2 separate regions of the Homo sapiens genome follow, and region 2 is linked to region 1. The links come from fine-mapping of genetic effects on gene expression. Tissue or cell type: sigmoid colon. Region 1 holds a variant in brackets; the other region holds the start of a gene. All regions are shown on one strand. Distances are from middle to middle.

Evidence for each region. PIP is the estimated chance that this variant, and not a neighbour inherited with it, causes the effect.
Region 2: it holds the start of ZNF667, and the variant in region 1 is fine-mapped to the expression of ZNF667 in sigmoid colon (GTEx, PIP above 0.99).

What each region holds. Positions count from the first base shown.
Region 1 is chr19:56,417,570-56,422,720 of GRCh38, forward strand. The region is part of intron 4 of ZNF583 (zinc finger protein 583); the gene reads left to right. Among named protein-coding and RNA genes, the nearest start is that of ZNF583, 16 kb to the left of the region's middle. The variant T/A (reference allele first, on the strand shown) is at 2,092.
Region 2 is chr19:56,475,303-56,480,453 of GRCh38, forward strand. ZNF667 (zinc finger protein 667) reads right to left here and starts at 2,043. Exons shown (of 7, transcript NM_001321356.2): 1 at 1,970-2,043. ZNF667-AS1 (ZNF667 antisense RNA 1) reads left to right here and starts at 2,572. Exons shown (of 2, transcript NR_036521.1): 1 at 2,572-3,079.

The DNA of each region.
Region 1 (5,151 bases):
ATCATTTATATGTATTGGCTTATATGTATGCCAATTATGGCTTGCCTTTTTGTTTTTCTGCTGCCACCTCTGTTGGAGGCAAAGTTTGCAGTTTTTGTAAAATCCAATTTATTAATTTGTCTTGGTTGGTGCTTCTTATATCTAAGAAATTCTTGCTACTCCCAGGTCACAGAGATATTTTTCTAGGAGTTTTAAGGTTTTAGCATTTATATTTAGCTCTGTGAATGATTTTGAGCTAATTTATGTGTCTTGTGTGAGGTAAAGGTTGAGGTTCATTTTTTTTTCCATATGGATATACAGTTGCCCCAAGACCCTTTGTCAGGAAAGACTTTCCCTTCCTAATTCTATCACCTATCACCTTGCTACTTTTCCTGATCATTACTTGACCACATATGTGTGGGTATGGTTCTGGAATGTCTTCTGTTCCATTGATCTATATGTCTATTGTCTCACCAGTTCCATACTGCCTTGATTACTGTAGCTTTGTAGTAAGTTTTGATACCAGATAGAGCAATTTGTAAAATTGCCTTGACTGTTTTAGATCATTTGCATTTCATATAAATTTTAGAATGAAGTTGAGAATTTCTGCTCAAAAAACTTAGATTTTTGTTGGGATTACATTGATTCTGTATGTCAATTGAAAAAAACTGACCTCTTAACATTGAGTCTTCTAATATAAGTATGGTTTATTAAGCCATTTATTAGTCTTTAAAAATGTCTTGAAGTTGGGTGTAATGGTGTGCGCTGGTAATCTCAGCTACTTGGGGGGCTGATTTGGAAGGATTGCTTGAGTCCAGAACTTGGAGACTAGCCTGGACAACATAGCAAGACTCTGTCTGAAAAAGAAAAAGGAAAAATAATAAAATTTATCTTAAGAATATTTTGCAGTATCCAGTGTAGTGGTACTCTGTTAAATTTTTTTTCCTAAGTCTGTAATAGTTTTTTGAGTGCTATAATAAATAGAATTTTTTTTAACAATTCAGTTTTCTAATAGTTTGCCACTAGTAGGCAGAAATGTAAATTGATTTTTATATTAGCTTTACATCTTATGACCTCGCTAGATTCATTTAATGGTTGCCCTCACAGTTATTTTGTAGGTCCATGAGGATTTTTTGGATGGACAATCATGCTATCTACAAATACAGTTTTTTTTTCCTTCTGATCCTTATACCTTATTTTTCTTGATATATTGCAATGGCTAGGACCTCCTATATAATGTGTAATTGAAGGGGTAAGAGGAAATGTACTTGTGCTGTTTCAATCTTAAGGGAAAACGTATTCTGTCTTTTACTATTAAGTCAGTGTAAGCTGTCAGTTTTTCTTAGATGTCCTTGATCAGTTTGAAAACGTTACTTTCTATTCCTGGTTTGCTGATAATTTTTATAATAAATGGATCAGATACTATTTCTACATCTGTTGAAATGATCATGTGATTTTTTTTCTCTTTAACCTTTTAATATGGTGAATTACATTGATTGATTTTCAAATGTGAAACCAATCTTGCATTTTTGGGATAAACTCTACTTGGTCAAGATCATGCTGTTAATATTTTCCTAGATTTCATTTGCACAGTTTTATTAAAGATTTTGCCTTATGTACATGTGCTACATTGGTCTGCAGGTTTACTTTTTTTTTTTTTTTTTTTGAGATGGAGTCTTGCTCTGTCACCAGGCTGGAGTGCAGTGGCTCAATCTCAGCTCACTGCAACCTCCACCTCCCGGGTTCAAGCGATTCTCCTGCCTCAGCCTCCCGAGTAGCTAGGACTACAGGCATGCGCCACCATGCCCAGCTAATTTTTGTATTTTTTAGTAGAGATGGGGTTTCATGATGTTGGCCAGGATGGTCTCGATTCTTGTCCTCGTGATCCACCTGCCTCGGCCTCCCAAAGTGCTGGGATTACAGGCGTGAGCCACCACGCCCAGCCTGCGGGTTTACTTTCTTATAATTTTTTTATCTGGTTTTGGTATCAAGATAATACTGGCCTTATGAAAACAAGTTGGAAAGTGTTTATCTTTCTCTATTTTCTGACAGTTTGAATAAAATGGTATTATTTCTTCTTTAAATATTTGATAGAATTCACCAATGAAGACA[T/A]CTGGGCCTGAAGTATTTTTTACATAACAGCTTTAATGGATATAGGGTTAATCAGGTTATCTGATTTTTGTTGAATCAGCTTTGGTAGGCTGTGTCTTTCAAGAGATTTCTGTGTTTCATCTGAGTTTTTCAATTTATTAATGTTTTTAAAAAACAGCTGTAGGCTATGTAATGATAACTCCTCTGGTGTTGCTGATATCTGTTCTTTTTTTCTTGATAACTGATGTTTTAAAAGAACCTACTTTTGTTTTATTTCCTCTGTTGTTGTTTTTCTATATTGTTAATTTTCTTTCTTAACTTTTTCTTCTACTTTCCTTAAGTTTACTTTGGTCTTTTCCTCACTTCTTGAGGTGACATCTTAGATTATTGATTTTTAGACTTTTAGTTGTTTTCTAACATAAGCATTTGAAAACTGTAGATTTTTCCTTTAAGTACCATTTTAGCTGTATCCCACAGATTTTGATATGTTGTACTGTCATTATCAACCAAGATATTTTCTAATTTCTCTTGTATACTCTGACCCATGATTTATATAGAAATGTGTTTAGTTCTCAGATGTTTGGAGTTGACTAGGTATTATTGATTTAAAAATCAATAACCTCTAACCTCTGTTGAGGTTAGAGAGCATACTCATCTTGGTTTCGGTACTTTGGGATTTATGGAGACTTGGTTTATGCCCCAGAATATAGTCTATCTTATTTACTGAACACATTGTGTGCACTCGAATACATGTTGTACAAGTGTTTGGTGTAGTGTTGTATAAATATAAATTAGATCAAAGTAGTTAACCCTGTTGAGATCCTCTTTGTTACTATTTTTTCCTAGTTTTGTCAGTTTCTGAGCAAAGCATGTGTTAGTTGCCTATTATGACTATAGGATTACCTATTTCTTACACTTTCAATTTTTGTTTTATGTATTTTGAGGCGTTATATTAGGTGCACAGACATTAAAGATTATTTCTTTCTGATGAATTGATCCTTTTATTACTATACGTCTCTATCTTTGGTAATACTCAGTTTTAAAGTCTATTTTATCTGACGTGAATATAGTTAATCTAGCCTTATGCTTACTGTTTGCATGTTACATCTTTCTTTATCTGTATTATTAATGTATTCTTATATGTAATGTGAGGTTTCTATAAACAGCATATAATTGTGTCTTTCATTTTGTTGATTCCTATAAGTTCTGCCTTTTAACTGAATAAGGAGTTCATTAATATTTAATTATTTATATAATTTGAGTTGAGTCTACTATTGTTTTCTCTTTAATATTTCTCATTAAAAAATATTTGCTCATCTCTATCTTCTTTTGGGATGTTTGAATATTTTTTATAATTCCATTTTATTTTATCTGCTGGCTTGTTGTACCTTTTTATATTATGCTTCCAGTGGGTGCTATAGTGCAATGATGCTCAAAATGTCGTCTTGAGACCAGCAGCACCACCTGTGAATTTATTAGAAACGAAGATTCTCAGCCCTCAACCTCCACTAACTCAATCAAAAACTCTGTGTGTGGGGTATAGCAATCTGTAGTTTAGCAAGTTTTATCTAATTCTGATACACTCTAAAATGTAAGAATCATGCCTGTAACGATTATAATATCTATCCTTAACTTTTCAGTCTAATGAGAATTAGTGTTTTTACTTCCTTATTATAGTTTTATCAACTTAATTCTGGGTTTAATTAGATCATTGCTCCTTGGCAGTCATTTCATATTTCTTTTTTGACCCATCAGTCTTCAGAATTTAATTTTCATGTTGACTTTTTATAGGGCATTCATGGGTGTGATTTGCAACTGTTTAGAGAGGAAAGTGGAATTTGGAAGGGCACTGAGGCAGCACAGCGGAATTAGCAGCCTCAATTTAAGTATGTTGCCTTCAGATTCTTTTCCTTCCAAATATCATTATCCACTGTAATATTTAAGTTTAGTGGTAATATTCCATTTGGTTTCAGACATTTACCCCATTCATGCAAGCATGTCATTCTAATAAGAGGATGAATTAGTGTGGTGTTTTATGTCTTATTGATTCAGTATTTATTCCAAAGATACTAAGCACCTTCTATCTGTCCAGGCTATTTTAGGCAATGGGTGTTCAAGGGTGAGAAAAAAACTTCCTGCACATGAATGTTTACATTCTAATAAGAATAGAGAGTAAGTTAACATGTAATATGATATTAAATAAGTTAAGTGCTATGAAGTGCAAAGCAGGAGGAAAGAGAAACATAAGAGTGTGGAATACTTCATATTGGATGTTCGGCAAAGGCCATACTGAAGAGGTAATATGTGAACAGAACCTCAAGTGAAGAAGTGCAATGAGAGAAGGGATCAAGCAGATATCTGTGGAAAGTGCTTTTCAGGCAGAGAAACAGCAAGTCTGGTGCTCCTAAAGTGGAAATAAAGTGAATTCCCATATGACTGAAGTGGAGTAAGCAAGCAAGGGAGTAGTAGAAGATAAGATCAGAGAACACCAGGTCATGTAGAGTTTCATAAACCAAGGTAGGAATTTTCACTTTATTCTAAATGTAGTAAGAAACAGGAAAATCTTAAGCAGAAAAATGAAGTGATCTGATTTGGAACTGGACAGGGGAAGGCAGACTAAGTTCTGTGCTAGGTTAGTAAGACCAAGCAGTTTGATACAAAACTACTCTTATATGAAGGCATCTTAGCTGCAGGGATCAATTGAAAGTTTACATATGGTTGGAGTTTGTTACATAGAAAATGATTTTCTGGAAGACTTTTTTCTAACTACAGATGTTTACCCATAGAGTTTTATGAACAATATGAACAACCATAAAGTTTTACATGTATCCTAATAAGGATATTAATACTGCCTACTGTTGTTTTTAGGCCTGGGATTCCAATGGAGTTTTTAATCATATTAACATCATAAAACTGGCTTATAAAAGATAACTTAGCTTGAATGCAGGATAACCTATGACAAGAGAGGAAAGGTGTTTGAAGTCTGTTATTAACTTAGATATAAAAAGATGATTATGATTTTTAGAATACCACCTTCATTGTTTTGTTCTTATATTTACCTTACTGGTTGTCAATGATTAT
Region 2 (5,151 bases), 58 kb after region 1:
AATGCATCTCGGAGCTTACCCGGGCTGCAGGCCGTTTCTTCTCATCTCAGAACACTATCCTTTTATCATCTCTCCGTGCCCCGCCTTCCCCAGCTCCCTTACTCTTCTCCCTGTCATCATGCCTTCGGTCTGTCCATGCGCTTGCATCACGGTCCTCTCAATCAGAGTGATTTTGCCCCTGCAGGGGACATCTGACAGTGTCTGGAGACATTTTTTTTTCGCTTGTCACAACCCAGAGGGAGGCGCGGTGTGCTACTGGCCTGGTAAATAGAGCCCAGGGTTGCTGCACAACATCCTATAATACATAGAATAGCAGCCCCTCCCACCTCCCAACAAAAAACTATCTGGCCCCAAATGTCACAGTGCCAAGGCTGTGAAACACTGGTCTGGACAGAAACATTTCCAGACCCATGTGTTATATGGAAACATCCCTTAGTCCCTGACACTTCAAAGTTCTGTTCTTGACCCCATGGGCTCCCTAGGGACATCTCCATCAGGAAGATCCTTTGTTCCTGACCCCACCTCCTCTACCCTAATGCTGCCCTCCCAGGACCCTGCCTACACAATTCTGAACCTAAGCCCTGATCTAGACGTCCAAGTTATTTTACCTCTGGACCTGCAACCCTTACTCTGGGGCTCATCCTTTTGCATTTCTACCTATGGATTTTATTCTCCAGGTGTGGGACGCCTGCGGTTATTATGCTAATAATAAAACGATGATCATTGATGTGGCACTTCCTTGTGCCAAGTTCTACTTATGCTCACCATAAACCTGAGGTTGGTTCTGTTATTACTACTGTTTTACAAGTGAACCGAGGAGTGGTGGACTTAAGTAAGCTCTCTCAGTCACACAGCCAGCCAGTGGTGAAACCAGGAGTCAACACCAGACAGCGGGGCGCCACAGTCCATGCTCTTATTTTTCCAAGCTACCTTGGTAGGAAGGGGACACAACCATACTTAGCGTCAGTGGAGGGCTCTGTCCTCCACTCAAATGTACACATGCAGAAAACTGACGACGCAGGTGGTTGGCGGGGGCAGCGCACCACTGCTCAACTGGAGATGGTCAGATGCCCTGGTATGTGGACAAAGATAGCCCAGTCCGAAGCTCAGAGATGCAAAGTCCTCCAGTATTCACCACTACCTCTGCCTCTGTATAGGGTCAAAGAAAAACGACCACCAGCACCATAACCAACACCTAAACACGGTGATTAGTATGTGACAAGCTCTGTGCAGGGTGTTTCAGCTACGTCATCCCATTTAATCTTCCCAATAACACCCAGGCAGGTGCTATTAATATGCTATTTTACCAAGGAGGAAAGTCATGCACAATTAAACAGTTCCACAGATTTCCAGGGCAGCCCATCACATCTTAGAGCTGCTAAGAATTCTTCCCCTGTGGGCCTCCATTTCCATGGTTACAGTGAGATATACACCAGAAAGGCACAGTCACACACTCATAACCGCAAAGCCACTGACGCTAAGTGGCAGACAGACGCCCAGGCAAGTCACACAGTAACCCAAGGCTACAATAAACGCCCACATCAGCCTGACACTGACACACGCACACACTCCAGAAACACAAATCTTCACAGTCAGCGTCACACACCCACTCCCGGCTTCCCAATGGCTCCATTGTTTCCTTCGCGTGGGTCACGCAGCGATACACATCCGCGGTCCCGACATAGCTCCCTCACACACAGGCACACACGGCTCGCCTCACACGCGGCGCCAACTTCACACTTGGGCGCACAAGCCCCGAGAACCACAGCAGCGAAGGGCGCAAACCCCACGCCGTGGCGGGCCGAGAACCCACGCAGGCGCGAGCCCACCGCCCACGCAAGCACCCGCGCAGACGCCCACGCCATCGTGGATGCGCAAACCCACGCGCGCCTTGGCAGGAACGTCCACGCAGTGGCGGGCGCGCCGCCCACGCCCTCAGACACACCCACACTCTCGCCAGCCCCCTTACCTCGGTCTTCCCGGGCTCAGACCCCGGCGGCGACCACCGAGACAGCCGAGCAGGGACTCAGCGCCTGCGCACTCCCCTCCGGGACCCCGGGACCGCGCGCTGCACCCCCCTTCACACACGCACCACGCATGCGGGCGCGTGGCCCCGCCCCCAAACAAGGCCACGCGGCGTGCGCTCACCCGCCTCTCGGGGACAGTACCACCAGCCCCGGCCTGAGGCCCCGACCCCTCAGCGCCACACGCACAAGCGCGTTCGCACGATTGGTGCAGGCGGACGCGCGAGGTCCCGCGCCTGCGCACACCCCCGAGGCTGGCACGCACACCGGTCTCCTAGGGGACTGGCGCCTGGCCCTGCTTTTCATCCTCTCAGGAGATCACGTGTGGACACTGAGGCCCTTCCTCGAGCTCTTTAACCAAACCCAACCTCCCCAATTCGCCGCCTTCCCCGCTCCCACAACCACACGTTCCCGTGTGAGGGCTTATTGCCTCCAGCCAGCCAGCGTCCTTCGCCCCCACATTCACGAGGTTTGGAGCCGGCCTCACCCGCGGAGGCGGACACCGCCCACCCGCGCGTGCGCACTACGCAGTCATCCTGCGACCTCCAGAATCCACCGGGGTGCAGCGAGGCTGTGGAAAGTCCCACCCAGAACGTGAGGTGAAGAAGGCTTGGGCTGCGCTGGTTCTGCTCTGTCCGGGTCGGAGATGAACTGACCCGGGAGAGCAGCGGAGGGATGTTTCTTTTGGCCAACAGTGGGGACTCACCTGCACGTTTTGCGAAGAGGCCCACAGTCCTTTGCGTGGCGCTCGGACTACATTTCCCAACGGCCCCTGCACGCCCTGGGGGCTGTTCCATGCGGTGTTGCGCCTGCGTAGCCGGCGGGCTGGCAGTGAGACTGACTGCGTCGGGGTTGAGACTGGGTGGATGAGGCTCACCCCGGCGGGGAGAAGGGACGAGGAGGGGCGGACAGCGGAAGGTCCGGGAGTGTCCGCCATAAAGTCGTTTGAGGTGACCGTTGCGTAATTGTGAGTCTGTGAGAGAAGATGTGAAGTATGGCCTCGTCCCGGTCATCTGGGCGTGCGGGTCCCGGGTTTTGATCGCGCGTTTGTGTAGGTGAGACCCACATTGTGTTACCCTGAACATGTGTGAGGACGAACCTTTGTGTTTTCTTATACGTGTGTCTCTGAGGCGATTTTTGTGGTTTTGTACGTGGCGGGGGGCACTGATTTTGAATATGTGTGTATGTTCTGGACATTTGTTTAGCTTCTGCATCCACTTCTGCGGAAGGGCAGAGTTGAGTAGGTGGGAACAGGTACTGTGTGGCCCCACAAAGCCTGAACTATTTACTGTTGACTCTAGAGCCCAGTTTTTGCGGTGTGTACGTCTCTGTGGGGAACCACACATTTTGAATATGTATACTTGTGTATATTTACGTCTATTCTATGACTGCTTTTGCACAATGGCAGGGTTCAGTACTTGCAGCAGAGATCTTGTGGCCCATAAAGCCTAAAATACTATCCGACTAAGGTTTCGAGCCGTAGCCAGTTTTTGTGGATGAGTGTTGTGTGTGTGTGGGAAGCCAGTGATTGATTGATTGATTGATTGATTTGGGACGGAGTCTCGCTCTGTCGCCCAGGCTGGAGTGCAGTGGCGCGATCTCGGCTCACTGCAACCTCCGCCTCCAGGTTCAAGCCATTCTTCTGCCTCATCCTCCCTAGTAGCTGGGACTACAGGCGCCCGCCACCACGCCCGGCTAAGTTTTTTGTATTTTTAGTAGATTCGGGGTTTCACCATGTGGGCTCTTGACCTCGTGATCCGCCCGCCTCGGCCTCCCAAAGTGCTGGGATTACAGGCGTGAGCCACCGCGACCGGCCAAGGAAAGCCAGTGTTTTTGACTCTGTGTGTGTGTACCCGCCTGTGTGTTGAGACCCAGTTTTTGTAGTTGCATAGGTGGGTATATGTGTGAGGGGAACCCAGGGCCTGTGATTTCTTTCTTCCCAGGTGACTCTGAGCAAGTTTTGGGGACTAGGTAGTAGGGAGAATGTGTGAGGAACTAGTTTTGGTTTCCCATTTCTGTGATTAGGTAGTAGCAATAATAAAAATAAAAGCTAACAGATACTACTATTAGGACTTTTACCATTACCTCTGTGACTAGCAGCTAGCACTTACTGATTGTTGTCCCTGGTCAAAAGTGAATTTTTCCATTTAAGGTTTTCTTTAATCCTGTAAGCCGTTCTCTGAGTTGTTCCTTGGAGCAAGTTTCTTTCTAGACTGGAGATTGTTCTAAATACCTGGTAATACTAGAATAAGGGGTGTGGTCAAGAGATCCAAGAAATCTTAGGATAAATCTGTCACTTGGCAGTTTCTTTGTTTTCTTTAAACCACCTCCCAAGAAAGTATGTCATCCTTTCTGCTGTTTTAGGGGCATGTTAGTGCGAAAATCTGGGAAAAAGCTTTATGCCTCAGACTGTCCTAGTTCAGAGAAACCAGAGTGTGTGGGTCGGATGTCTTGGCTCCTGATCAGGCTCTGTTGTGCCCATTCTCCGAATAAAGCAACTATCTCCCAAGACACCCATGAGTTTTCTAAGACAGTTTGTCCCAGAGCCCAGGTCCAGAATCTAGTCCTGGTCTTGGATTTGGTCAGACCTTCCCTCACTCTCACCTCAGGACTCCCCACCACTTCCCCCCCTGCCCCAGGAACCCATGGGAATTACAGGCATAAATTAAATACCTGATCCTATGACAGCTCCAGAGTATCTGGAATCTTTTTTTTTTTTTTTTGAGACAGTGTCTTGCTCTGTCGCCCAGGCTGGAGTGCAGTGGCGTGATCTCTGCTCACTGCAAGCTCCGCCTCCTGGGTTCAGGCCATTCTTCTGCCTCAGCCTCCCGAGTAGCTGGGACTGCGAGTGTCCATCACCACACCCAGCTAATTTTTTTGTACTTTTAGTAGACACGGGGTTTCACCTTGTTAGCCATGATGGTTTCACTCTCCTGACTTCGTGATCTGCCCGCTTCAGCCTCCCAAAGTGCTGGGATTACAGGCGTGAGCCACCACGCCCAGCCCAAGATTTAATTTGTTAAAAAAAAAAAAAAAAAAAAAAAAAGTAGGGTAAAGACGCTAGAAAGTCTAGAGAGGAAGGAGGGATTATTTTACACAGGATGGTCAGGGGAGGCCACTTTGATAG